Regions from separate parts of the Homo sapiens genome. Here regions 2 and 3 are each linked to region 1. Evidence: fine-mapped QTL for protein levels in blood plasma. A gene starts in region 1. Each other region holds a variant in brackets. All regions are shown on one strand. Distances are from middle to middle.

Region 1 (10,395 bases):
AGACTCATAACACTGAGAGGGAGGTAGTCAAGCGATGCACTGCTCAGCCTCTCTCAGTGCCTCAGAATTCCTCAAGACCCACAGGACTTGGTTTATACTTTCACTGATCAAGTAGAAGGGTGCCCTGTTCTCAGTCTCTTTTAAATGTTTATTTGGAGCTTGCAGTAATGATAATAGTCGCAGTAATAATGGCCTTAGATTTACAAGCACTTTCATGTATACTATCTCCTTAGATTCTTGTCACCCTTCAGGTAAATGAGACAGATATTTTTATATTTTCTATTTATATATTTTATATTTATAGTTGCATATTTTATATTTTATTTCTTTTTTTTTTTCTGGAGACGGGGTCTCACTCTGTGACCCAGACTGGAGTGCAGTGGTGCAGTCTCGGTTCACTGCAACCTCTGCCTCGCGGGTTCAAGTGATTCTCCTGCCTCAGCCTCCCAAGTAGCTGGGACTACAGGTGCCTGCCAACAGGCCCAGGTAATTTTTGTATTTTTAGTAGAGACAGAGTTTCGCCATGTTGGCCAGGCTGGTCTCAAACTTCTGACCTCAGGTGATCCACCTGCCTCGACCTCCCAAAGTGGTGGGATTACAGGTGTGAGCCACTTTGCCCGGCCTGCATATTTTAAATTTTATTTCTATATTATGTTTTAGGTTAAATCAAATGAAATTGCTATTTTTATTAAGTCAAAAACAGTTAAATCTTGGCAATTTCAGCCTAATAAAATAATGACATCCTTACTTTTTGGATGAGGATATTGATTATATATACATTGCCCAAGATGAGATTGCGAGCTGTCAGATGACTACCTCCAGTTTCAAAGTCTATAAATCCATTTGGGTTGTGGGCTGCCTTCATTTAAAGAACATTCTGAGACAGCCAGTAGTGAGACTGGCAAAAGCACTATCATGTTGGAACAGTGACAGCCTGCAAAGTGCTAACTACACTATACAAATTACATCCTGTACTTCTAAAAATCCGTGTAGGGTTTGTATTACTCATCTCTAGTTTACGGATATGGAATCTGAGGCCAAGAGATATCATGTAAATTGTCCAAAAATAATAGTTTGTAAGCAGCATAAATGAGATTCAAACTCACGACTGTCTTATTCCAAACCTGGACTCTTTCCACTAAAATCATGTGGTAGCTATTAGTGATTTACTCTCTCTCAGCTCTCCTGCCATGAAATACCAGTACACACAAGGATTTTCCTCTGAATCCTCTAGGTCTAATTTTCTCTAGCCTAGAGTTTCCTGAAAGATAAATCCATTATTTCAGATATTTTCCCCAATCCTTCACCTCTAACACTCATGATTCTCCATTCTGATCTCAGCATTTTAAAATATTGCCTGCCAAAAGATTAGATTCCCTTAACTATCAACAACCAGTTCAAGGAGAAATTCACGTGGTGGGTCTGACCCATAATTTCACTGAAGAAAACAGAAAAAGACTTTTATAAAGTAGAAAAAGATGATCAAACTATCACTCTTCTAAATGAATTAGCACTCACCTTCATGTATCAGGGGATGTTCCACAGATGTTCTGCTGGCTCAAAGGATTTGCATCAAAGGCAACTCCACCTCCCACAGCACAAGTCAGGACAGGAAGAACAATCTGGACTTTAATTTATCCACACTAAGATGTGGGAGTGTTTCCACTCTGATTGTCTGCGAGCTTTTCTTGTGCTTTTAAGCCCAGCCCAAGTCAAAGTGGCACTTACCCACTTATGCTGGGAAATGGATTGCATTATTGTTAACTAAAAACAAAAGCAAAAACAAAAACACTCAACTCTACAAAAAAAAAGGATCATCTGAAAGACCAGAAACAACTAAAAGAAGTGACTAACTTTTAAATTTTCTCTTCAGGAAGTCCTTACAAATGTGGTAATAGCTGAAACAGTGAGAGTATCTTTAGCTTGAAATGAGAAATACGCAATCATGTTAACTGTCTTTAGACAATGAAGGAGATGAAGGAAAGAAAATAATGGTAGCTGACTCCAAAAAGAGGCTTACAAATTCTTATTTACGTCTAAAGGAAAACATACTGAACTGAGAAACCAGAGCTTCAGTTTAGCCACTAGTAATAATCATCATTAATAATTTGTGGAGCTCTTACTGTGTGTCAGGCATAGTACTAAGAACTTCACATTAATTATCTCTTTTAATCTTCACAACAATCCTATAACATCAGGAGTATTTTTATTCCCACTTTATAGGCAAGGAAACTGAGGTCAAAACAGTAAGCAACATGTCCTACATGGGTGGTGGAGCCAAGACTTGAACCAAGGCAGCCTGACTCTCAGTTTCCTAGCAATCAAAGGTTCAAATTAGATTATTTCTAGGATCCCTTCTAGTACCACAATTTTGCAACCGTTTGTAATGGACTGACAAAACCACGAGAAATAAATAGACCGGGGAAGAGATTATGATGCAAAAGGAAAGAAAACTAAGTTTTAAAACAAGCTATGCTTTCCAGCCCCACATTTTAATTTTTAACCCATTCCCCATCTTCCTTAGGCAATGTTCCACTAAGTAGGAGGAATAAGGGTGAGAAAGAGAGCTAGTCTTTTACCTAGAAGATTATAATTATGAGATATTTAAAATTCCAGCCAGGCGTGGTGGCTCACGCCTGTAATCCCAGCACTTTGGGAGGCTGAGGCAGGTGGATCACCTGATGTCAGGAGTTTGAGACCAGCCTGACCAACATGGCAAAACCCCATCTCTACTAAAAATACAAAAAAATTAGTCAGGCATGGTGGCAGGCACCTGTAATCCCAGCTACTCGGGAGGCTGAGGCAGGAGAATCGCTTGAACCCGGGAGGCAGAGGTTGCAGTGAGCCAAGATCGTGCCATTGTACTCCAACCTGGCGACAAGAGTGAAACTCTGTCTCAAAAAATAAATAAAATAAAATAAAATAAAATTCCATTATAATATACTATAGAGAAAAGCTAAATGCTAGCACAAAAATAGCAAGCATTTCTTGAATTTATTCAACCAATACTTAGTAAACACCTATTACATGCATAACAGCTCACTAAAGGTGTTGTGTATTAAATAGAATTCTGGTTAAGACAAGACCAATTGAGCATATACATTTATCTCTACTCTCTCAGGAAACTCCACAAAAATTATGGCAAAGATATAGAACCACAAGACAAAACAAATGGGAAGAGGCAACAGCAAATAAGAGATGTCAACAAATCTTTGGAAAAAGAGAAATGAATCAAGCCATAACTGAACTGGTAAAGATGAGAAAGCAGAAACCTAGAAATGCCTAATAAGGTTGCCAACAATAAGCAAACATAATTATGCCACGGAATCTCATACGGCTCAGGATTTGAGACACTAGGTAGGTAAAATCAACCCTCATTACTCACAGCTTCCTTATTTGTGAATTCACCTACTTGCTAGGAATTATTTGTAACCCCCCAAATCAATACTCACAATGTTTTGCGGACATTCACAGACACATGCCGTGGTGAAAAACTTGAGTTGCCTGATGCACATTCCCAGCTGAGGTGGAACAAGCTGACACTCTGCCTTCCTGTCTCAATTTTCATACTGCACACACATGTCTTTTCATGGTCTATTTAGTGCCATGCTGGTTATTACTATTTTTTTTTGCAATTTTTTGCCTTTTATGAGTGATTTTGCTGTTTCGAATGCCCCCCAAGCAGAGTGCTGGAGTGCTGTCTGGTGTTCCTAAGCAGAAGGAGGCTGTGCCTCATGGAGAAAATATGTGTGTTAAATAAGCTCTATTCAGGCATGAGTCATAGTACTGTTATTAGCCATGAGTTCAATGTTGATGAATCAACAATGTATATTAAATAAGGTGTCTTTAAACAGAAACACACACAAAACAAGGTTATGTATTGATTAGCTGACAAAAATGTTGTGACCAGAGGCTCACAGGCACCTAACTCTATATTTCCCCCACAGAGAATAATTCAGTATTTTCTTTTTTTCTTTTTTTTTTTCTTCTGAGACAGAGTTTCGCTCTTGTTGCTTAGGCTGGAGTGCAATTGCGCCATCTCAGCTCACCGCAACCTCCACCTCCCGGGTTGAAGTGATTCTCCTGCCTCAGGCCAGCCTCCCATGTAGCTGGGATTACAGGCATGCGCCACCAAGCCCAGCTGATTTTGTATTTTTAGTAGAGACGGGGTTTCTCCATGTTGTTCAGGCTGGTCTCAAACTCCTGACCTCAGGTGATCCACCTGCCTCGGCCTCCCAAAGTGCTGGGATTACAGGCATGAGCCACCACGCTCAGCAGTATTTTCTAATTCAGTGTTTGTGGCGATTTTATTGAACATAATTGCCAGGAATAATGAAGGAATAATGAGAATTGACTATACCTCTGAAACAAAAATCATAAGATTGGTTGAAAATCTGAAAAAGAAATAGACTACCTAATCCTAACCCCACAAAGCCAAATTCATTAAATTTCTCCCATCCCAACAGCAGATGGGGGGAAAAAACTTGAAAGAAAGGCAATGCAGAAAGCAGAATATTTTTTAAAAGAAATATTAGTTAAACCTTCATAGAAAATAAGAAAAAATGTTGTACCCACAAAATATGAATAGGATGCTATGATAAAGGCATAATTAGAGAACAAGAACTCTTGGAGATTCAAAATATGAGAGCTGAAGTCTAAAGACTAGAAAATAAAGTTGAGGAAATCTTCCAGAAGATAGAAGAAAAGACAAAGAGATGAAGAATAGCCAACATCTGACTACCAGCAGTACAGAAGCACAGAACAGAGGAATGGAGGGAAAGAAATAATGAGAGAAGTGATACAATAAAATTCCCAAGAATTGAGGAACATTTGTTTCCAGATTGAAAGGGCCCACTGTAAACAGCATAATAAATGAAAATAAATCTACACTGAAGTACAAAACAGTGAAGTTTCAGAATATCAAGAATAAACAGAAAAAAAATGTTTCCAGATAGGAAAAAAATAAGTCACATACAAAGGATCAAGGATGAGAATGGCTTTAGACTTAATAACAAAACCAGAAGTTAGAAAGCAATGGATCAATTCCTTTATAACTCTATTGGAAAATTATTTCTCACCTAGGATGCTCTACCCATCCAAATGATCCATCAGAAAGAAAGGTAAAACAACGTTCTTGAAACTGCATTTTCCAACATGCCAAGTTTCAAGAACTTTATCTCCCATGTGACCATTTTCGAGATGTTATTGAAAAAAGTGACTACAAAAACAAGAGCATAAGCCAAAACAAAAAGGAAAAATGGGCTCCCAAAAACAGCAAATTTCAAATAGAAGAGAGAGAATTCCAAGAATGGTGGCCAAGGGAGATCCCAAGATGATAAGAGTACAACAGGCTTGGAGAGCAACTAGCCCAAGTGAGTGGCAGACGCCAGGCTCAAGGAGGGATATTTCCAATGAAAAAATACATGGAGGGGACCCAATGGATCTGACAGATGTTGAAACTTGAAAAGTTTTGCAGCACTCTTAGAAAGTTTGGAGAAGGATGAGTAATCGGCTCAGTAAGTTAAGGAAACCAAAAAATGGCATAATTATTAATTCCAGGAAAAAGAAAATGTTATATAAGAAAATATATTTAAAGTCCAATATGTGGCTCAGCTATGAATAACTATAGAGTCACAACAATGAAAACATTAATGGATTTAACAAAAGTTATAACTATATTGAAAGAATGGGGTTAGGAAAGGATGCACATATGTGTGTGTTTGTGTATAGAATTGGTAAGAGACTTCAGTCTTTATCTTCCATAGTTAGTAAGAAGTCAATAGATAATGTCTAAAATTGAAAAAAAAATTAAATTGCAGTATAAACATGTTCTTTATAGATATGGAAATAAACCCCAGAAAAAAAAAAAGCTAAAAGAAATGAAAGTGATTTTTTCTGTGAAGAAAGTTTGGCAATGGGAAGGGATATAGCACTGTATTGCTGTTATTCGTGGTAAGTCTTAGAGTGCCACTTGAATGTTTAAACTATGTATATGTATTACTTTGATAAAATGTAAAATTATATTTTAAAAGTGAATTAATAGGTGAATTAACAAGTGCTCTCCCCATGAAGGGAAATAGATGTCATTCTCAGTCTGACACCTCAACCATTTCCTCCTAGGAGGAGCAATGTGATTTGTTGGGTGGTTAGAGAGTCTAGATGAGAGGTCTTTTGTTTACTTGTTTCATTTTTTTCTTTCTTTATTCCTTGTTTGTTTTGAAAATAAGAAAGTCATAGAAAGAGAGTTCTAAGATAGATAAATGGATTGACGGATGGATAGTGTTTCCCATTTGAAGTGGGCTTTGAGTTGCAGCCCCTGAGGCAGCCCCCCCATCTCACACCTTGTTAGTGGAAAACATAGTAAAAGCATTTTAGATGCCTTTAATCCGGGAATTCCACTTTTAGATATTTATCTAAAAGAAATAATCATGGAGTTTTCCAGAGATATAACATCAAGGATGGTCATCATGGCAATGCTTATAAAAACCAAAACAGATAAATTGTAATTTGTTTTAAAACCCAGAGCTTTTTGGAGAAAAGGTTGATTTCAGGACTTGGGCAACGAAAATACAAAATGTGCCTGGAGTATCTTGTAGTACCAGATAGTAAGGAAATGTTGAAAAAGCAAAAGGATAGAGCATGTCAAAGGGACACAGGAACCAATCTGAAAGAACTTCCAGCCAAAGCCAGAACAATTTGAGCAAAAAAGTGAATAATGTATACTGGATTATAATTCAAAGTATAAAATAAATATACATTACTTCATATTAATATTAATAAATGATTGCATAAATAAATGTGGAAGAAGAGACTAATTTTCCTTATAGAAAAATTCTAAGTGATCTGTAGATACTGCTATCTTTAAGAAGTGAATGAAGTTTAATTCCCTCTCTTCTCCCACCTTCAGGGTATGCTAGACTTGATGACTCACTTCCAAAGAACAGAGTTGGGAAAGACAAAAAGCGTATTTTACAGTGGAGAAACCTGGCAAACACTACCTTAACCAATTAATGAAAGTTAGCATCACCAGTGATGTTATATAGATATAACCAATCCCTGATATAATGTGACAAGAAAGGTATTTCATCTTTGTGGTTTCTTTCCAAAAACCCACAAGCCCAGTCTAGTAATGAGGAAAACATCAGAAAAACCCAAGTTTGAGGACATTTTACAGAATATCTAGTCAACACTCTTCAAAACCATCAGGGTCATGAAAACCAAGGAAAGACTGAGAAACTGTCACAGACCAGAGGAGATTGGAAAGATATGATGACTCAATGTAATATGGTAGCTTGCATTGGATCCTGGAACAGAAAAAGGACATTAATGGAAAAACTGGTGAAATCCAAATAGAAGCCTAGAGTTTGGCTAATAGTAATGTACCATTCATGATCTGGTTTTTAGTTTTGACAAATGTACCATAATAATATAAAATGTTGCCAATGGGGAAAACAGTAAGGGGTATTCAGGAACTCTGCATTATCTTTGCAACTTTTTTTGGCGGGGGACAGAGTCTTGCTGTGTCACCCAGGCTGGAGTGTAGTGGTGCGATCTTGGCTCACTGCAACTTCCGCCTCCTGGGTTCAAGTGATTCTCCTGTCTCAGCCTCCAGAATAGCTGGGATTACAGGAGTGCACCACCACGCCCACCTAATTTTTGTATTTTTAGTAGAGACAGGGTTTCACCATGGTGGCCAGGCTGGTCTTCAAGTAATCCATCGGCCTTGGCTTCCCAAAGTGCTGGGATTACAGGTGTGAGCCACTGCGCCCAGCCCTATCTTTGCAACTTTTCTTTTCTTTTTATTTATTTATTTATTTATTTATTTATTTATTTATTTATTTTTATTTTTTTTTTTTTTTCTGTTGCCCAGGCTGGAGTGCAGTGGCATGATCTCGGCTCACCACAACCTCCACCTCCCGGGTTCAAGTGATTCTCCTGCCTCAGCCTCTCAAGTAGCTGGGACTACAGGTGCACACCACCATGCCCAGCTAATTTTTGTATTTTTAGTAGAGATGGGATTTCACTATGTTGGCCAGGCTGGTCTCAAACTCCTGACCTCATGATCCACCTGCCTCAGCCTCCCAAAGTGCTGGGATTACAGGTGTGAGCCACCATGTCTGGCTAACAACTTTTCTATAAATCTAAATTTATTCCAAAATAAAAAGTTTATTTTTAAATTCCAGAAAGTATAATAGGGCACCTGCTTGAGCACACAGGTTTACCCAGAGTACTGGTATTAGTGTTCAAAATCAGAGAATATTTTGTAACATCATAAAATATAGATTCTTTTTTCCAAGATGGAGTCTTGCTCTGTCACCCAGGCTGGAGTGCAGTGGCATGATCTTGGCTCACTGAACTTTGCCCGGGTTCAAGCGAGTCTCCTGTTTCAGCCTCCCAAGTAGCTGAGATTACAGGCGCACGACACCAAGCTTGGCTAATTTTTGTATTTTTAGTAGAGACGGAGTTTCACCATGTTGGCCAGGCTGGTCTCGAACTCCTGACCTCGTGATCCGCCCACCTCAGAATTTTAAAGCTAGAAGGAGACTTAGAAATGAGTCTGCACCCTTCACTTTTATAGATGAGAAAACTCAGTCTCTGATTTGCCCAAGGTAACATCATTAGCAGCAGAGCCAAGATTAGAATTTATCCAGGTCTTAACATTCCCAGTTAAAATGTACAGAAATATTATGGGGTCAATTCCTATTTTGGAAAGGCAGAGAACCAAACAATACGCATCAGAATATAAAAGTTAAGAAATCATTATGCCTTCAATATTTACAGCTGGGACTTCCAGGTTCTGGTTCCCCATGTAAGGAGCTTAAATGGCATAAATCTGTCCTAACAACAAGTAAAAAGCTAAACAAACTGAAAATCAACAATTCTTCTTAGATCCATCAGAGAAGTGAGGTCACAGGACAAACCACTGTCCCCAAAATTGGAGAGACAGACAGGTGGATATACAGAGAATCACAGCTCCCCAGAACACAAACTCATTTCCACAGGAACCAGTACCAGGGTAGGAAAACCTGAATTATCATTGTTAAATCACTCAAGGCTCAGTGTGGACAAGTATAAGAGTCAAAAACTCCAGGGAGCCCGAGTCATAAAGAGGCCCTCATACTTTGTGAGTTTTACCTACAGGAGCTCGTATAAGAACCACCAAATTCTCATAGCAAAGATTAGAGAAAAATAGCAGGTAGCAGAGGGACAGAGGGGAGTAACCATTTTGAAATATACTAGAGCATTTCGTTCTTCTTAACAAGGCCTGCTGTATTAGTCCGTTCTCACACTGCTATGAAGAAACACCCGAGACTGGGTAATTTATAATGGAAAGAGGTTTCCTTTATAAATTCCACATGGCTCAGGGAGGTCTCAGGAAACTTACAATCATGGCGGAAGGAAAAGGAGAAGTAGGCACCTTCTTCACAGGGCAACAGGATGGAATGGGTGCAAGTAGGAGAAATGCCAGACACTTAAAAAACCGTGAGATCCCATGTGACTCACTCATTATCATGAGAACAGCGTGGGGGAAATAGCCCCCATGTTCCAATTACCTCCATCTGGTCCTGCCCTTGACGTGGGGATTACAAGGATTACAATTCAAGACGAGATTTTGGGTGGGGACACAGCCAAACCATATCACCTGCCCTCAAGAGCCTAACCTAATGGGAAAGAAAATACCCCACTACAGCCCTCTCTTGCCATCCTGTACCACCTAAGTGAAATCCACCTGTACCACAATTAACACAATTTGTGAAGTTCACAGTCCAGAGGCACAGGCTCACTAAAAGACTGAGACCTAATCATAGGGCTGTCAAACACTTCCTCTCCCTTCACATCTTGTCATGACCTCACTAAAGGTCTGTTTACCCCAGTTCCTTTTACCTGGTACATCATGTTCACCTTTCAACAAAATGTTATAAGGCATACTAAAAGGCAAAAAACACAGTTTAAAGAGACAAAGCAAGCATCACAACCAGACCCTGATATGGTATGGATGTTAAAATTATCAGACTATAAATATAAAATAACTATGATTAATATGCTAAGGGTGAGTGGAAAAAGTAGACAATTTGCAAGAACAGATGGATATCTTAAGCACAGAATGGAAATTCTAAGGAAGCATAAAAAAGAGATGCTAGAGGTTAAAAACACTAACAAAAATGAAGAATGCCTTTATTGGGGTCACAGGTAGACTGGACATAGCTGAAGAAATAATTTCTGAGCTTGAGGATTTGACAATGGAAACTTGCAAAGTGGAAAAGCAAAGAGAAAAAAACTAAAAATAAATAAACAATAGTATCTAAGAATTTCAGGACAACTGCAAAGGTGTAACATACTCATAATGGGAATACCAGAAAGGGAAGAAGGAAAAAAGAACAGACACAATATTTA
Region 2 (8,000 bases), 34 kb before region 1:
TCCTGCCTCAGCCTCCCCAGTAGCTGGGGCTACAGGTCCGCACCACCACGCCGGGCTAATTTTTTCTTTTTTTTTTTGAGACAGAGTCTTGCTCTGTCACCCAGGCTGGAGTACGGTGGCGATCTCGGCTCACTGCAAGCTCCACCTCCTGGGTTCATGCCATTCTCCTGCCTCAGCCTCCCGAGTAGCTGGGACTACAGGTGCCTGCCAACACGCCCGGCTAATTTTTTGTATTTTTAGAGGGACGGGGTTTCACCGTGTTGGCCAGGATGGTCTCGATCTCCTAACCTTGTGATCCACCCGCCTCAGCCTCCCAAAGTGCTGAGATTACAGGCGTGAGCCACCGTGCCCGGCCATTCCCGGCTAATTTTTTTGTATTTTTCGTAGAGACAGGGTTTCACTATGTTGGCCAGGCTGGTCCCTAACTCCTGATCTCAGGTGATCCACCCACCTCGGCCTCCCAAAGTGCTGGGATTACAGGCGTGAGCCACTGCACCCAGTCCATAAATCAAATTCTTAAAATACTTTTGAGATCCCTTTCTAAGAGGCTCACATGGCTTTATTATACAAAGGTGCAAACCCTTTAGACTAGGGCCACAAAAGAATCTGGAGGGTGTTGAGGTAAGGTCACATGGATGGCAAACCTGGGAGACAGAAAACCTGAGCTTAGGTTTGCAACTGACAAGCCCTGTGATCTTGAATAGATGATTTAAGCTTTCAACATCTTGATTTCCTAATCTGCAAAAATGGGGATAGCAAGGCCTCAATTACAGGATATTTGCAAGGATTAAATAATTTGGAGTATAAGGAAGCTCTTTGTTACTCATAATATCATACAAATATGGGTCTTGTTAAACGGACATGTTGGAATTTTAGCATTAGTTTTACATGGCTACATTTAAACAAATATTTATTGAGCACAGGCATGCACCAGGCAAAGGGAAAACAGATGAAAACTAAGGTCCCTGCATTTGAAGAATTTACAGTGTAACTGGAAGAGAAAGTTGAAATGCATTGCTGTTAAGTGCAATGACAGAAGCATGCAGAGGAGGGACCAGGCCCAGGCCCTCAGAAGGAAATATGTCAGGCCTGAGTTCTGAAAGGTGGAGATTGGGGCAGGAGAGGTGCAAAAGCAGAGGGTGTTCTAGGAAAGGCACAGAAAGAGTGAGAGAACATGATGCAAGGGAAACAAGCAATTCAGAATGACCAGAGAGGCAAGAGCAAGAGCGTGAAGGGATCGGTAGATGCCAGGTCTCACAGAGTTAATAATTTGGACCCTTTTCCATCAACAATGGAAATCTTTGATAGAAGGTTGGGAAGAGCAGAGTTGGGTTTAGCTGGGATTGCAACTGAGGATAACTGCTTGTATTTGAAAGCTAAGGAGAAGGCCAGGCATGGTGGCTTATGCCCATAATCCCAACACTTTGGGAGGCTGAGGCAGGTGGATCACCTGAGGTCAGGGGTTCGAGACCAGCCTGACCAACATGTGAAACCCCATCTCTACTAAAAATACAAAAAATTAGCCAGGTGTGGTGGCACAAGCCTGTAATCGCAGCTACTTGGGAGGCTGAGGCAGGAGAATCACTTGAACCCCGGAGGTGGAGGTTGCAGTGAGCCAAGATCATGCCATTCACTCCAGCCTGGGCAACAAGAGTGAAACTCCACCTCAAAAAAAAAAAAAAAAAAAAAAAGCAAGCAAGCAAGCAAGCAAGCTAGCTAAGGAGAGAGAAAGAGTAGTACAGACTTCCACCTTCCTTCCTGCATCCTCCAGGAAAACAGGAGGCAGGACATTTTACCTCTGGGACTGGCAGGAAGCAAAGATGAGTACAGATGTGGGTGAGTTTGTTAAAGATACGGGGTACAGGATGCCAAGGGTTGGGTAGTTTATACCCGTTGCCCTCACTTAGTGTTATATGCGGTATAGTAATTTTCCAGAGGGACTCTGGTCCTGGTTTATTTTTCTTGTTGAATCCTATCCCCCAGCAGCTGTAGTAACTCTGCACTCAGCCAAATAGAAGGAATTAAGGGTTTATAGCCAGTAGACTATCCCAGAAGTTTCTCAGGTTCACGGAGACCATGACATGTGGTATGAAGAGGAGCTTGTGCTATACCGGGGACTGCTCTGCTTAGGGGTTCCCCAAACTACAATTAATGAATCTAATGTTCCATGTAGGCAGGTTCAAAGAGAATGGTTCCAGAGCTGGCTTAGAAAGGAAGCTGGGGGGAGAAGTGGCCATTATCATCTCTCTGAACACAGTGATAGAGGCAGAAGGCAGATAAGGGGGGTTCCCAGAGAATCTCTGACCCGCCCAAGTGTTTACATCAGATGCTTTTGTGTAGATGAGGAAACCTGCCCAGGGTCTTGTCCGCGCATGTCGACAACAGACTGGGGACCCGCCTGTGCACTGGGAGAATGGGGTGGAGCCACGGGAAGTTCACGCTTTGTGCAGGGGGAAGGAGCCTGGCCTCTTTAGCTCCTGTGTGGTGGCCTGGTATTCAGTCTGTGAGGTGGTAGCCTGTTAGCAGGAGCCCATCTCGCTTTGCTGAGAATTTTTTTCTCTTTTTTCCTTTTCGCCCAATAAATTCCTCTCTCCTCACCCTTCAATGTGTCCACGTGCCTAATTTTTCCTGTTGACACAAGAACCCGGATTTAGCTGAACTAAGGAGCAAAAATTCTGCAACAATAGGACAAATAATGCTTTTCTGAAAGAGTTCCAGACAAGGAGAGCATGCTGCAGTAAACAGGGTGTCTATGGGTTTCCACAAGGGAAAGGGTCGCATGATAGCCTCCTGGACAAGATAAAAAAAAGTAGGCTGAATGATGATAGTGGTAATTAGGTATATTCATAGAAACCTGAATAAATGACCATATCCAAAGGAGGGGTTGATCCTCTGGATGGTTTCTACTGGTTTACCACAGGGCTCTGATGTAGTCACCATTTTTATTAATAATTAGATAAAGGTATAGAAGGAAGTGTTATCAAATCTGGGGATACTGAAAAGTTAAAAAGTAAAAAGTTAATCATAAGTTTTGGGTGACCAAACAGGATTCTAAATAGGCTGGAATGATAGATAAGACCAACATGAAGACATTCAATAAGAATAAATAAAACACCTGAACTTAGGTTAAAAACCAACAAATGATAAGATAGTAGAGGTATGTTTTACTGGCAAGTCTTCAGGAGGTAAAAAGTCTTAAAGATTTAATTGGCTAATAGTTGATTAAAAGTCAATAATGTGTCTGCTCATGATGGCTCACACCTGTAATCTCAGAACTTTGGGAGGCTGAGAGAGGAGGATCACTTAAGACCAGGAGTTCCAGACCAACCTGGGCAACACTACAAAAAAAATTTAAAAATCAGCCAGGCATGGTGGCATATGCCTGTAGTCCTAGCTGCTCGAGAGGCTGAGGCAGGAGGATCGTTTGAGCCCAAGAGTTCAAGGCTGCAATGAGCTGCAATCACACCACTGCACTCCAGCCTGGGTAACAGAGTGAGACCCTGTCTAAAATTTATAAAAAGGCAATAAATATGAGATGATTACAAAAAGGTGATACAATTTCAGGCTGCATTGATGGAAACTGCAGAATATTTTCTTGACTTTGAGGTAAGAAAACATTTCCTAAGACACAAAAGGCATTAAGCATAAAGGTAAAGACTGATAAAACTCTAACCATATTAAAATTAAGTGACTATTCCTCAAAAGTCACCATTAAGAGAGTGAAACGTCATGCCACATAGTGAAAGATGTTTGCAATACACGTAACAAATAAAAGACTCATAAATAGAATATGTAAGGAATGCCTACAAATCAATTGAAAAATCAGGCAGACCAGCCAATAGAAAAAACATGCAAAAGGCTTAAATCAGCGCTTCCAGAAGAAGGAATCCAAAGGGCCAATAAACATGTGAAAAGGTGTGTAACTTCATTAAAGGTCAGGTAAATGCAAATTAAAGCCACCATTCCATCATGTTCATACTATGAGATACTACACAGCAATGAAAATGTATAAACTACAGCATTATATAGCATGAATAAGTCTTAAAAGCACAATATTGAGAGATAGAAGCCAAACATTAGAAAATACAAAATATATGGATTCCCTTTATATGCTCCTCCTCTATTTCTACTGGGCGCTTCTTCATCCTGGGACTCAAGGAAACAGGGCATAGTCTCTTAAACTATGTTCTTCAGTGATGCAGCCTTAAATGGTAAAAAATGAAAGCAAAGAAGATTACCATGAAAATCAGGGTAACAGCTCTAACAGAGGTCATGAGCAAAGGGTAAGCAGGGGGCTCTGGCATCCTGGAGAAGTTCTATTCTTGGCCGCAGTGGTTTCTACATGAGCACTGACTTAATAATAATTTGTTAAATGTAATATTACGTTTTGTTCACCTTTCCAAATGTATGTTATACCTCATGATTTTATAAAAGGTCAGAAAAATAAAAAATAAAATGGCCAAACCATAGACTCTCTGGTAGCCAACATAGCCAGACACAAACTTGGATATAATGCAGAAGTAAATTTCTCACTCTTTATTATGTCCCTGTGCTCAGAAGGCAAAAATGCCTATTGTAGAACACCCTTCCAATCTAAAAGGTCCAGATGGAAAAATGGAAAACTGGAAGGAGAAGTACTTAGCAATGTCTCTCTTCTATTTTTAATGTAAAAAGTGAAATAATGATTCCAGGTCAACAATAGTTGTCAATGATTCTTTTCCTCTGGGCCTCTAATTGGAATATTATTATAATGGCATAACTTACCCAGCTGGTACTGTTGACTGTCCTGAATCGAAGTGTGTATTTTAAAT[C/T]AGATGAAACAGGCGCCAACTCAGGCTTTATCCATTCAATTTGAATCATTCGTTTGATGCCCAAAACTGGTTTCACACGGAAAATCTTAGGTGGTTCAGTTTTCGCTGAAAATAAAAATCATACAACTCTCATATCTGCAAAAAGATAAGAATTTGCTAATAGCATCCACCCAAAATTGAAAAAAAATGATACGTGCATTGTGGTCTGCTATATGGAACGAAGATGGCATTTGCAAGGCAGTACAAAAGGAATGTCACCCCCCCAACCCCAACACCTCTGAAAAAGGAATACCCAGTGAGAGAAGGATGCATTCCTGTGATTTTTCAGCAAATCAGCCTCTTATTGATTGGTCATATGCTATGCCAAGCAGAAGGGAGGTAAAAAGAGACCACACAACCAGAAAATAGGCTGTCTCTCTTATTTACTCTCACCTCCCCTAGGCCTCTCCTTCCTTGACCCCTAGGATGATGGAATACCCACTATAAACACTAGAAAATAACTCTCATTTTCCTTGCACACTGCAAACATTTTAGCCTTAAATTTCTCTCTTTGAAAATATGCATTTTTCTAGTTATAAATGTAGCATATGCTTATTATACAACATTTTTTAAGTGTAGAAAAATACAAAGAAAAACTAAAAATCATCCATTATCCCATCAACCAGAGATAACCCTTATTACCATTTTGTTATATTTCCTTTCAGCCGTTTTCCGTATAATTATTTGCATTATCTTCTAACAAAATTGGTATTACGCTAAATAAAGCTTTTGTTTTTTAAAAATAACATTATGCAATCAGCATATATCCCTTTGTATTAATAATTCTTCAAAACATGATTTTTAAGGTTCATAATATTCTACTTTATGAATGAACATAATTTTTTGACTTATGTTCTATTATCGCACATTCATGGTATTACAGTAGGTAGCTAATCAGGCATGAGAAGGACAGGAGAGGGCTCCCCCTACACCCCACCAGGAAAGTCAGGTGACCATCAGGTGATGCTCAGACCATTGTCACGCTGCCTTGCAAACCTAATAATTGGCTGTAGCCAGCACCAGGGAAAGGCAGTTTCCCAATATATAAAAACACCTGTAACTGGTGATTGGCAGCTCCCCAGTAAGATCTCAGGAATTGGGCTGGACGCAGTGGCTCACATCTGTAATCCCAGCACTTTGGGAGGCTGAGGCAGGCAGATCAGGAGGTCAGGGGTTCAAGACCAGCCTGGCCAACATAGTGAAACCCCATCTCTACTAAAAATACAAAAATTAGCCGGGCATGGTGGCGGGCGCCAATAATCCCAGCTACTCAGGAGGCAGGAAAATCACTTGAACCCAGTAGGCAGAGGTGGCAGATTGCACCACCACACTCCAGCCTGGGCGACACAGTGAGACTCTGTCTCAAAAAAAAAAAAAAAAAAAAAAAAAAAAATCTCAGGAACTGGGCGAGTGGGCTCAAGCATGGCCATTAAGAGGCAAAATGGCAGAGTTTAACTGGTATATGAGCTTCTGGGGGCATTCCAATGGAAAAGGGAAGAACGCCTCAGTTGAGCATGCGTACGACTCCAGTAAATACACTGCGCATGCTCACCTCCTAAGTTCTAGCAGGCCGCCGTGCAAGTGGGCAGCTCACCGTAAGGGAAGAATCAAGGGAAATGGGACGCAAGGTGCCGGAAGTAGGCCGGCGTAGAAAACCCAAGGCGCAGAAAAGTCCAAGGTCAAACGGGGCACTTGACCTCCAGGATGCCCACTTGGCCCTCTTCCAAGTGTTCTTTACCTTCTTCCTTCTTTCCATTCCTGCTCTAAAGCTTTTTTTTCTTTTTCTTTATCTTTTTCTTTTTTTTTTTGAGATGGAGCCTTGCTCTGTCACCCACGCTGGAGTGCAGTGGCGCGATCTCGGCTCACTGCAAGCTCCGCCTTCCGGGTTCACGCCATTCTCCTGCCTCAGCCCCCCTAGTAGCTGGGACTACAGGCATCTGCCACCACGCCCAGCTAATTTTTTGTATTTTTAGTAGAGACAAGGTTTCACCATGTTAGCCAAGACGGTCTCAAGCTCCTGACCTCGTGATCCGCCCGCCTCAGGCTCCCAAAGTGCTGAGATTACAGGCATGAGCCACCGCGCCCGGCCTCTAAAGCTTTTTAATAAACTTCCACTCCTGCTCTAAAACGTGCCTCAGTTTCTTCTTCTGTCGTATGCCCCTCAGTTGAATTCTTTCTTCCGAGGAGGCAAGAACTGAGGTTGCTGCAGACCCATACGGATTTGCTGCTGGTAACTCAGATAACTTCCACCGCTAACAATAGTGTTTCTAATTTTTCATTTAAAACTCCTTGAGGACAAAGGCTGGTCTTGATCACAGAGTCTAGAATTAACACCTGACATTTAGCAGGTATCAAATATTTGTTAAGTGAATGAGTAAATGGATGATGGTTGAATTTTCCTTTACATCTCTGGTGGTTTCCCTAGACCCCTTAGCAGAGGCTGACTGGGTAAAAGGGCATGACCATGTTTAGGGCTGCTGTCACACAGTGCCATTTAGCTTTCCAGAAAGGTTATACCAATTTCAGTTTCCATCAACATTGTATGAATACCCATCTCACCAGACTCTTGCTAGCTAGAATTGAATAGTATTATCTTTTTAGTCTTTGTAATTCTTTTTTTAATTTTTAAAATTTTTAATTTTTTGAGTACATAGTTGGTGTGTATATTTATGGGACATATGAGCTGTTTTGATACAGGCATGCAATGTAAAATAATCACATCATGGAGAATGGGGTCTTTGTAATTCTTGAAGAGTTTTAGAAAGCAAAATCCCTACTTAGAGACATGGACTTTAAAACATTAACTGGGTAAAAATATTCAGAAAACTCTTGGTAGCTACTCAAAAAATAATTTGTACTGATGCCTGGACTAAAGGGTGGTCATCAATCCGTGTGGCCACTAGTAAGTAGAGCTGTATACAATAGACATATTAAGTATTTCCATAAAATTATTTATATGTATTGAGCACTTGATAAGTATTTTTTTAGGTGAATCATTTTGTTGAATCCTCTCAACCACCTAACATTTATTATATCCATTCTACAGAAGATAAAACTGGTATTGGAAAAGGGAAAATAACTTTCTAATAAGAAGCCAATCTAAGACTCATTTGTATCCACACCAAAGTTTCTGCCCTTGTTCATTACACT
Region 3 (8,000 bases), 63 kb before region 1:
AGAAAAAGGGACATCCCAAGTGGTCATTTAGGAGTCACATATGACATAGCCAAAAACTCGTTAGGCTTGGGACAGCAAATGCCCATCTCTGGAACAGCCCCCACCTTCCTCCCAGGCCCAGAAGTGGTAGCCAACCCTCTCTGCATGCCCTTCCACAGAGCTTGGAAGGAGTGGCACATTTCCTGAGAAACAGTGCCCTGGATTCAAACAATTTTTAAAATTTATTTATTTATATGTATATAATTTTTTTTTTTTTGAGACAGGGTCTCACTCCCGTTGCCCAGGCTGGAGTACAGTAGCATGATCACCACTCACTGCAGCCTCAACTTCTCAGCCTCAGGTAATTCTTCCCCCTCAGCTTCCTGAGTAGCAGGGGCTACAGATGCACACCACCATACCTGGCTACTTTTTAATTTTTTGTAGAGATGGGGTTTTGTCATGTTACCCAGGCTGGTCTTAAACTCCTGAGCTCAAGCAATCCCCCCTGCCTTGGCCTCCCAAAATGCTGGGATTATAGGCATGAGCCGCTGTACCCAGCCAATTCAAACAATTTCTTCTGCTAGAGTGTGCAAGGCTATTTTCCACACAATCCCATGTTCACAAAACCCCAGTTAAGATGGAAGAACTAAAATTAGAACTCTTAGGGATGGAAAAACCACATCATAGAGACAGACTTGTTCAACCTCACCAGAAAATCAGAAGTGGCCTCATGGCAGGGACAGTGACTTTGTCATTTGTATCCCTAGGGCCTAGCCCAGCACCTGGCATGTAGTGAGTGATTAATAAGTGCCGGCTCTAGAGGTCCAACCTACGGATTATTCAAAAAGCATGTTAGTTATCAGAGAGCACTGCCTATGAATCCATTTACTCTCTAAATGACATTTAATAAGCAGGAAAGTAAATGGGGGTATAAATCAGTCCAGTATACCGGACTGATAAGAGGAGGAAACAGAAAGAAAGCCCATTATAACAAAAGGCCCATGCTCAAAAAAGACTTCTGAGTGGGAACGAGGACTAATATTTAAAATTTGTGCATCAAGGAAAAACTGGAAACAGCCTTTCAGTAACAAGGATTTAAAGGTTATATTTGATTGGGCTTGTTTCTACGTAAGCAAGAAATTAAACCTTAAAATTTCCCTAACGGTTTTCCACTTAAAAATTTATGCAAATGGAGGGTTTCTAGTTAAGGAATACTCACTAGAAAACCCCAATGCCAGTTAAATAAAGCCTGACTCTGACGTCCCCAGCCTGAGAAAAACAACCTGAGGCAGCCTCAGACTGCCATGCCCATCAACATTCCCTGGTGATATTTAGACAGTCTTTAGATTAATGTGCTCTTGGCTGCTTTGTAAATGGCTTCAAATCCTATAGCCAAGGCTCCTCTCTCTCTAATTAGCCCATCAGGTCAGGAAGGGTAGGGCCAGTGTCTTTATTCTGCAGCATCCTTTATGGGACCAGTTCCACCTGGGAACGCACTGGGTCCTCATGAGCCTGGTGAAGCCCTTTCCCCTTGTCAAAGCATGAAGTCAAAGTCATTCCAGGAAGGCTGAGTCCATCTGCCCTGCCTGCCATTCCCTGAGACTTTTCAACTCCAGTTCTCTTGATGTGAACCTTGAAAAAAGCTCAGCCTAGGACTCTTTCCCCATCTCCATTCACCTCGTCTACCTCCCACGGCAATGATTTCCTTAATAAAAACAGGAGAGTTTACCTTGAAATCATCTCCATGCCATGTGGCTATACTACTTTCAGCAGGGTTGGGAAC[G/A]GTGGGCCAACACAGATGAGTCAATTTGCTAATGAGAGAGAAGATTTTAAGATGGGAATTGAATCCAAGAAGCATTAGCACCATATGGCTGAGTCAAAAGAGTGAGGCTGTGCTAAAGGGAATTGTAAGTTTCCCTCCTAAATAAGGGCATGTCTGCCTAATAGAACCTGGGAAAGTGGAGTTGTTTTGCGGTGTGTGTTGGGGGGTGACATTGCAAGTTCTCTGTGGGATGTGATCAAAGGAGACTCTCCCCATACAAAGCCTATCTTCCCCTCTCTCCCATCCCAGCATCTCCATACCTGGTCCCAATGCTGTAAATTGCACCATCACAGAGTCATTCCTTTGAGGCTTATCCTCTGGGAAAGACAACATTTTATAAACCTTATAAGCTACCCATACTTTCCTGCAATGGTTCTCCAAGTGTGGTCCCAACCAGCAGCATTGGGATCACCTGGGAACTTGTTAGAAATGAACATTTTGGGGCTTTACCCTAGAACCACTGAATCAGAAACTTTGGGGGTGAGGCCTGATTCTGATGCATGCTAAGATCAAAATGATTACTTAAGTGCATAATGTACAAGAATCTATGCTGGTGGCTTGGTTATTACCTACAGTTGGTAACGGAGGTTGATATTAGCTTGACCATTAACTAAGTGCAGCTGCTTGACAGAGATGACTCACAACTGTCTAATTTGGAGAGACAGCTCAACCAGGGGAGGACCATTAGGGTGCCATAAGGCTCACTGCAGAGAGAAAGTCTAAGACCCTGAAGACATGCTTTCTTCCCCACAGTGGCCAGGGCAAGCAGGTTAAAGGCCCCTGCAGCCAGACCCTCAACACTGCACCACAAGCAAGCAATAAGCTTGCACCCACAGACGACTGGCCAGCACTCCAACACCGTGGAGACACTGCTCCCCGCTCTGCCTGAGACAGAGCTCGCAAGAAGGCCTCTTGCTGCAGCCAGGGGCCCTGCTAGACACTGAGAGAAAGGGTCTGCTCTCCAACTCCAGTCTCAGATGGCAAATGGAGCAGACAGAGCCTGTGGGGCAGCTGGCACTCTCCTGGCCTCAAAAAGGCCTAGACCTGGGCATGGAGCTCTGGGAAACGAAAGTGCTCTTGCTTGGTCAGAATTCCGGTGAGCCACTGAGCGTGGCCTTTAATAACCTCAATAAATACGCACCAAGTTAATAAATGAATGAACACCCCTTAATGGTAGAGTGCCCTCTCCTACGAAGCACCTATGATGACTTCAACCCCTTTTTGTCCCTGATTTTTAAGGCACCCACTGTTGTCTGCAGACTCACTTGGGTTTTTTGAGACCATATGCCACTGTCAGGATAATGAGAATAAGAAGGCCTCCACCAATCAGAGAAGTTATGAGGATAATCTCAAAGACACCTTTGAAAAACAAAGAACAAAAGTCAGTAGTGAGTTCCTCACCTTCTTGACAAAAATCAATGATTAACTTTTTCTTCTAGTAGCTTCAGCAACACAATGTCTTATTAGTTTTCTTTCAGTTAAATTCAATTTCTTTCCACTAAAAAAACCCCAGGTCAGGAGTTTGAGACCTGCCTGGCCAACATAGTGAAACCCCGTCTCTACTAAAGATACAAAAAATTAGCCGGGTGTGATAGTGTGCACCTATAATCCCAGCTACTCAGGAGGCTGAGGCAGAAGAATCGCTTGAACCTGGGAGGCGGAGGTTGCAGTGAGCGCTGATCATGCTGTTGCACTCCAGCCTAGGCGACAGGGCTAAACTTCATCTCAAAAACAAAAACAAAAACAAAAACAAAAAACAGAATTTTGTGCCTCCCCATCTAGGTGTCTTCCTGGCAGCATTCATTCCAACAGCATTCATTCAGTGAATACTTATTGAGCACTTACTTTTTAATTTTTATAAATTTTTTTTGAGATGGGTCTTGCTCTGTCGCCCAGGCTGGAGTGCACTGGCATGATCATAGCTCACTGTAGCCTCGAACTCCTGGGCTCAAGCAACCTCCTGCCTCAGCCTCCCAAGTACCTAGGACTTACAGGTGCAAGCCATCATGCCCAGCTAATTTTTAGACTTTTTTTCTTTTTGAGATGGAGTCTCGCTCTGTTGCCCAGGCTGGAGTGCAGTGGTGCATCTTGGCTCACTGCAACCTCCGCCTCCTGGGTTCAAGTGATTCTCCTGCCCCAGCCACCCTGGTAGCTGGGATTACAGGCACGTGCCACCAAGCCCGGCTAATTTTTGTATTTTAGGCAGAGACTGGGTTTCACCATGTTGGCCAGGCTGGTCTTGAACTCCTGGCCTTGAGTGATCCTCCTGCCTTGGCCTCCCAAAGTGCTGGAGTTACAGGCATGAGCCACTGCGTCCAGACAGCAACTTTAGCTAAGGTGTCCAAGGAAGGAGTGAAATTCAAGCTGATCTTAATAGTGAGAAGGATCCAGCCATGCAAAACCATGGAGAAAAGCATTCCAGGCAGAAGAAACAGTGGATGCAAAAGCTTTGAAGCAGCAACAAGGTAAGGAAGATAAATAGAGGCAGAAAGCAGTAGGAAAAATGTGGTCAGTAAGGGACAGATGATGAAAGACCTTGAAAGTTATAGGAAGGAGTTTGGATTTTCTTTAAAATATAATAAAAGTCACTGTGGCTTTTAAGCAGAGAATTCAGGGTTTGAAACTCTGGCTGCTGTGTGGAAAATGGATTATAGAGGATCAAAAATGGAAGCAGGGTGATTTATAATCTATAGACCAGGGTAGGAAACTTCTAGGTTCCAGGGCTGGATCTTGCCTTCATTTAACCCTTGGAGAAAACTCCTTGAGCTGATGAAATTTGTGCCCAGTGTTGCAAAAATTCAATACAGCTTTAAAAAAATTTAAACAGCATATCAAAAAGAGTTCCTAGAGGGCAATGTTAGTCCATCAAAACAGAATATGTTTTCTCTGTAAAAAAAACATGTCATACTCACATTTTCCAGAGTGATAAAGCATTTTATTCTTGAAAAATGTGATGCATAAGAGGCTTTCAAGAATATTTCAAGCAATTTTTAGCTTGCCTCAGTTATTGCAAAAACTTGGCAGTGTTCCTTCATTTTTAATCTAAAAAGCGTTGTTCATTCTTTAAGACAGTTTTAGTACGTACTTAAAAATCAAATCTCTGTCACTCAAGGACTTAGCAAAATTAATATATATCTGTTTCTCCCATTCTCCTTCCTTCTTTCTGCTTCATCCCCCTCCTCATTCCATCTGCCTGCCTCTAAATATCTCCCTTAACCAGCCATCATATGAAGCTACATTTTATTTTACATTATTTGTTGTCTCTAGTAAATTTTTCTTGCTATTTTTTAATGTAAAAGTGGGTAAGTTAAATATATCATATGTCTTTTTGCTCAAAAAAAACCTCCACAAATGATGAGGTTAAGCCCCTTCCTATGGGTCAGTAGTCCTGAGTTAACCAAGGTTTTCCCTTGAAGGCCCTGTTGTACAGTGATATGGTTTGGCTGTGTCCCCACCCAAATCACATCTTGAATTGTAGCTCCCATAATTCCTACATGTTGTGGGAGGGACCCAGGGGGAGATAATTGAATCATGGGGGCAATTTCCCCCATACTGTTCTCATAGTAGTGAATAAATCTCATGAGATCTGATGGTTTTATAGGGGGAAATCACTTTCACTTGGTCCTCATTCTCTCTTGACTGCCACCATGTAAGATGTGCATTTCACCTTCCACCATGACTGTGAGGCTTCCCCAGCCACGTGGAACTGTGAGTCCATTAAACCTCTTTTTCTTTATAAATTACCCAGTCCCGGGTATGTCTTTATCAGCAGCGTGAAAACAGACTAATACATACCGTAACCTATAACATGCAGAAACTGGTGACTATGAACGGGGAGACAGCCTTGAGATGGGAGCTGGTTTGGTGCTAAGACTGAAGTTGGCATTAATTTGACACCTCCTCCTCCAGATGATTTGTGGCTGCCCATGAGGAACGACCAAAATGACCAGCATTTCCAAATTCGGCTCTCAACTTGCCTGCTCTTCCCTCCCATCTCCTCACCTATATGCTTTCCAGGAAGGTTGGTGAACAGAGAGCAGGATGGCAGGGCACTAGGCACTGCCCTTTCATTTGGCTTCCTCCAGCTTTTGGCAGATGTCATTTCTCTCTGATGTAAGGTAAACGTGAGGGAGAGGTACCTAAGGCTTGAAGGAAATACTCACTGAATGACAATGTCTTGAAATTTATGCTGGTCCCGTTGGTTCCCCCAGCACTGGTGCTGGCCATGACCTGAACAATGTAAGAGGTCTTTCGTTTCAGGGACTCCAGGCCGTACTGCAAGATGCTGGAATTGACTGTCTTGGCTAAAGGAAAAATACAAAGGTCAAACACCACAGCCAAACCAGACTGAAAATTGTGTCCCAGTAGCACCAAAATAAGAGCATTGGAACCTGTGCTTCCAAGCTCAGCTGTCTCATATTCTGACCCCTATTCATGTCCTGCTTAAATATCAAGATGGATTAAGGACCTCAATATAAGAACTAGAACTATAAAAATTCTTAGAAGACAGCATAGGATAAATCTTCACAACCTTGAATTTCACAATGGTTTCTTTGATATGACACTAAAAACACAAACATCAAAAGAAAAAAATAGATCAAGCTGGACTTCACTAAAATTCAAAGTTTTTGTGCATCAAAAGATAATATCAAGAATGAAAAGATAATCCAAAGAATGGGAGAAAATATTTACAAATCATATATCTGATAAATAACTTATATCCAGAATATATAAAGAACTCTTATAAATTCAATAACGAAAAGATAACCCAATTTAAACATAAGAAAAAAGATGAAAAATACACTTCTCCAAAGAAGATATACAAACGGGCTGGCCGGGCGCAGTGGCTCATGCCTGTCATCCCAGCACTTTGGGAAGCTGGGGCAGGCAGATCACCCGAGGTCGGGAGTTCGAGACCAGCCTGACCAACATGGAGAAACTCCATCTCTACTAAAAATACAAAATTAGCTGGACGTGGTGGTGCACACCTGCAATCCCAGCTACTTGGGAGGCTGAGGCAGGAGAATCGCTTGAACCTGGGAGGTGGAGGTTGCAGCGAGCCAAGATCGTGCCATTGCACTCCAGTCTGGGCAACAACAGCAAAACTCCGTCTCAAAAAAAAAAAAAAGATATACAAATGGGCAAAAACTACATGAAAAGATGCCCAACATTATTAGTCAGTAGGGAAATGCAAGTCAATGAGATAACCACTACATACCTACCAGGACAGCCATAATAATTTTTTTTAATGAAAAATAACACGTATTGACAAGGATGCAGGGAAATGAAAACTCTCATACATTGCTAGTAAAAAATGTATAGTGTGGAGTAGTCACTGTGGAAAACTGTTTGGTGGCTCCTCAATAAGTTAAACTAGAGTTACAGTATGATCCAGCAATTCAACTTCTAGGTATATGCCCCAAAGAACGAAAAACACAAACTCAAACACATATTTGTACACAGCAGCATATGTTCGTAGCAGACATCTGTTCATAGCAGCCCTATTCACAATAGCCTAAAGGTTGAAACACCCTAAATGTTCATCAACTGATGAATGGATAAACAAAATATGGAATATCCACACAATGGAATATTATTCAGCCATAAAAATGAATAAGTACAAAATCATGCTATAACATGGGTGAACTTTGAAAACATGCTACATGAAAGAAGCCAGACACAAAGACCACATATTTTATGATTCTATGTATATGAAATATCCAAAATAGGCAATCCATAGAGACACAAAGCAGTTTGGTAGTTGCCAGGGGCTGTGGGAGGAGAGGAATGGGGAGTGACTAATGAATGGGTATAGGGCTTCTATTTGGGCAGAAATAGAAGAGTTCTGGAAATAGTGGTGATGGTTGCACAATATTGTGAATGCTTCTAATGCCACTAAATTGTACACTTTCAAATGTTTAAACTGGAAAAATATTTTACGTGTATTTTACCATAAGAAAAAATTATTTAGCCTAAGCAAGAATCCAAGCCTTGCCCAGTATTTAAGATGTCAGGAGATAAGGTGGACTGAAAAACAAAAGCATGATTTGGCAGGGGCAGTAGAAGTCATGGTGACAGGGTCTGTTCCTCCTCACTCTTTAAGCCAGGCACGCCATTCCTGGGAATGATGGTCGGGGAGCTCCCGGGAGGTCAATTCAGGGCCTAACCAGGACAAATTATAACAACTCCTTCCATTTCC

Alleles and levels. Alleles are on the strand shown, and positions count from the first base shown. The strength of an association depends on the size of the effect and on how common the allele is.
As copies of T replace C in region 2, the plasma level of the protein whose gene starts at base 3,729 in region 1 goes down (strong association).
For the plasma level of the protein whose gene starts at base 3,729 in region 1, allele A in region 3 goes with a higher level than allele G (strong association).

The links. PIP is the chance, under the fine-mapping model, that this variant and not a neighbour inherited with it causes the effect. The UK Biobank Pharma Proteomics Project read protein levels with antibody pairs (Olink). The fine-mapping took linkage between variants from a reference panel, not from the people measured, so its PIPs are less certain.
Region 2: its variant is fine-mapped to the plasma level of the IL31RA protein (UK Biobank, PIP above 0.99). The variant lies in the coding sequence of IL31RA. If it changes the protein, the assay may bind it differently, which can mimic a change of level.
Region 3: its variant is fine-mapped to the plasma level of the IL31RA protein (UK Biobank, PIP above 0.99). The variant lies in the coding sequence of IL31RA. If it changes the protein, the assay may bind it differently, which can mimic a change of level.

Annotation. Positions count from the first base shown.
Region 1 is chr5:55,844,691-55,855,085 of GRCh38, reverse strand. It overlaps IL31RA (interleukin 31 receptor A), which reads right to left and starts at 3,729. Exons shown (of 15, transcript NM_139017.7): 1 at 3,453-3,729. The coding sequence starts at 3,515.
Region 2 is chr5:55,879,960-55,887,959 of GRCh38, reverse strand. IL31RA (interleukin 31 receptor A) reads right to left here. Exons shown (of 15, transcript NM_139017.7): 5 at 4,765-4,916. Among named protein-coding and RNA genes, the nearest start is that of IL31RA, 33 kb to the right of the region's middle. The variant C/T (reference allele first, on the strand shown) is at 4,812.
Region 3 is chr5:55,908,637-55,916,636 of GRCh38, reverse strand. IL31RA (interleukin 31 receptor A) reads right to left here. Exons shown (of 15, transcript NM_139017.7): 12 at 5,965-6,105; 13 at 3,067-3,160; 14 at 1,709-1,790. Among named protein-coding and RNA genes, the nearest start is that of IL31RA, 61 kb to the right of the region's middle. RefSeq lists an enhancer at 4,620-5,819. The variant G/A (reference allele first, on the strand shown) is at 1,763.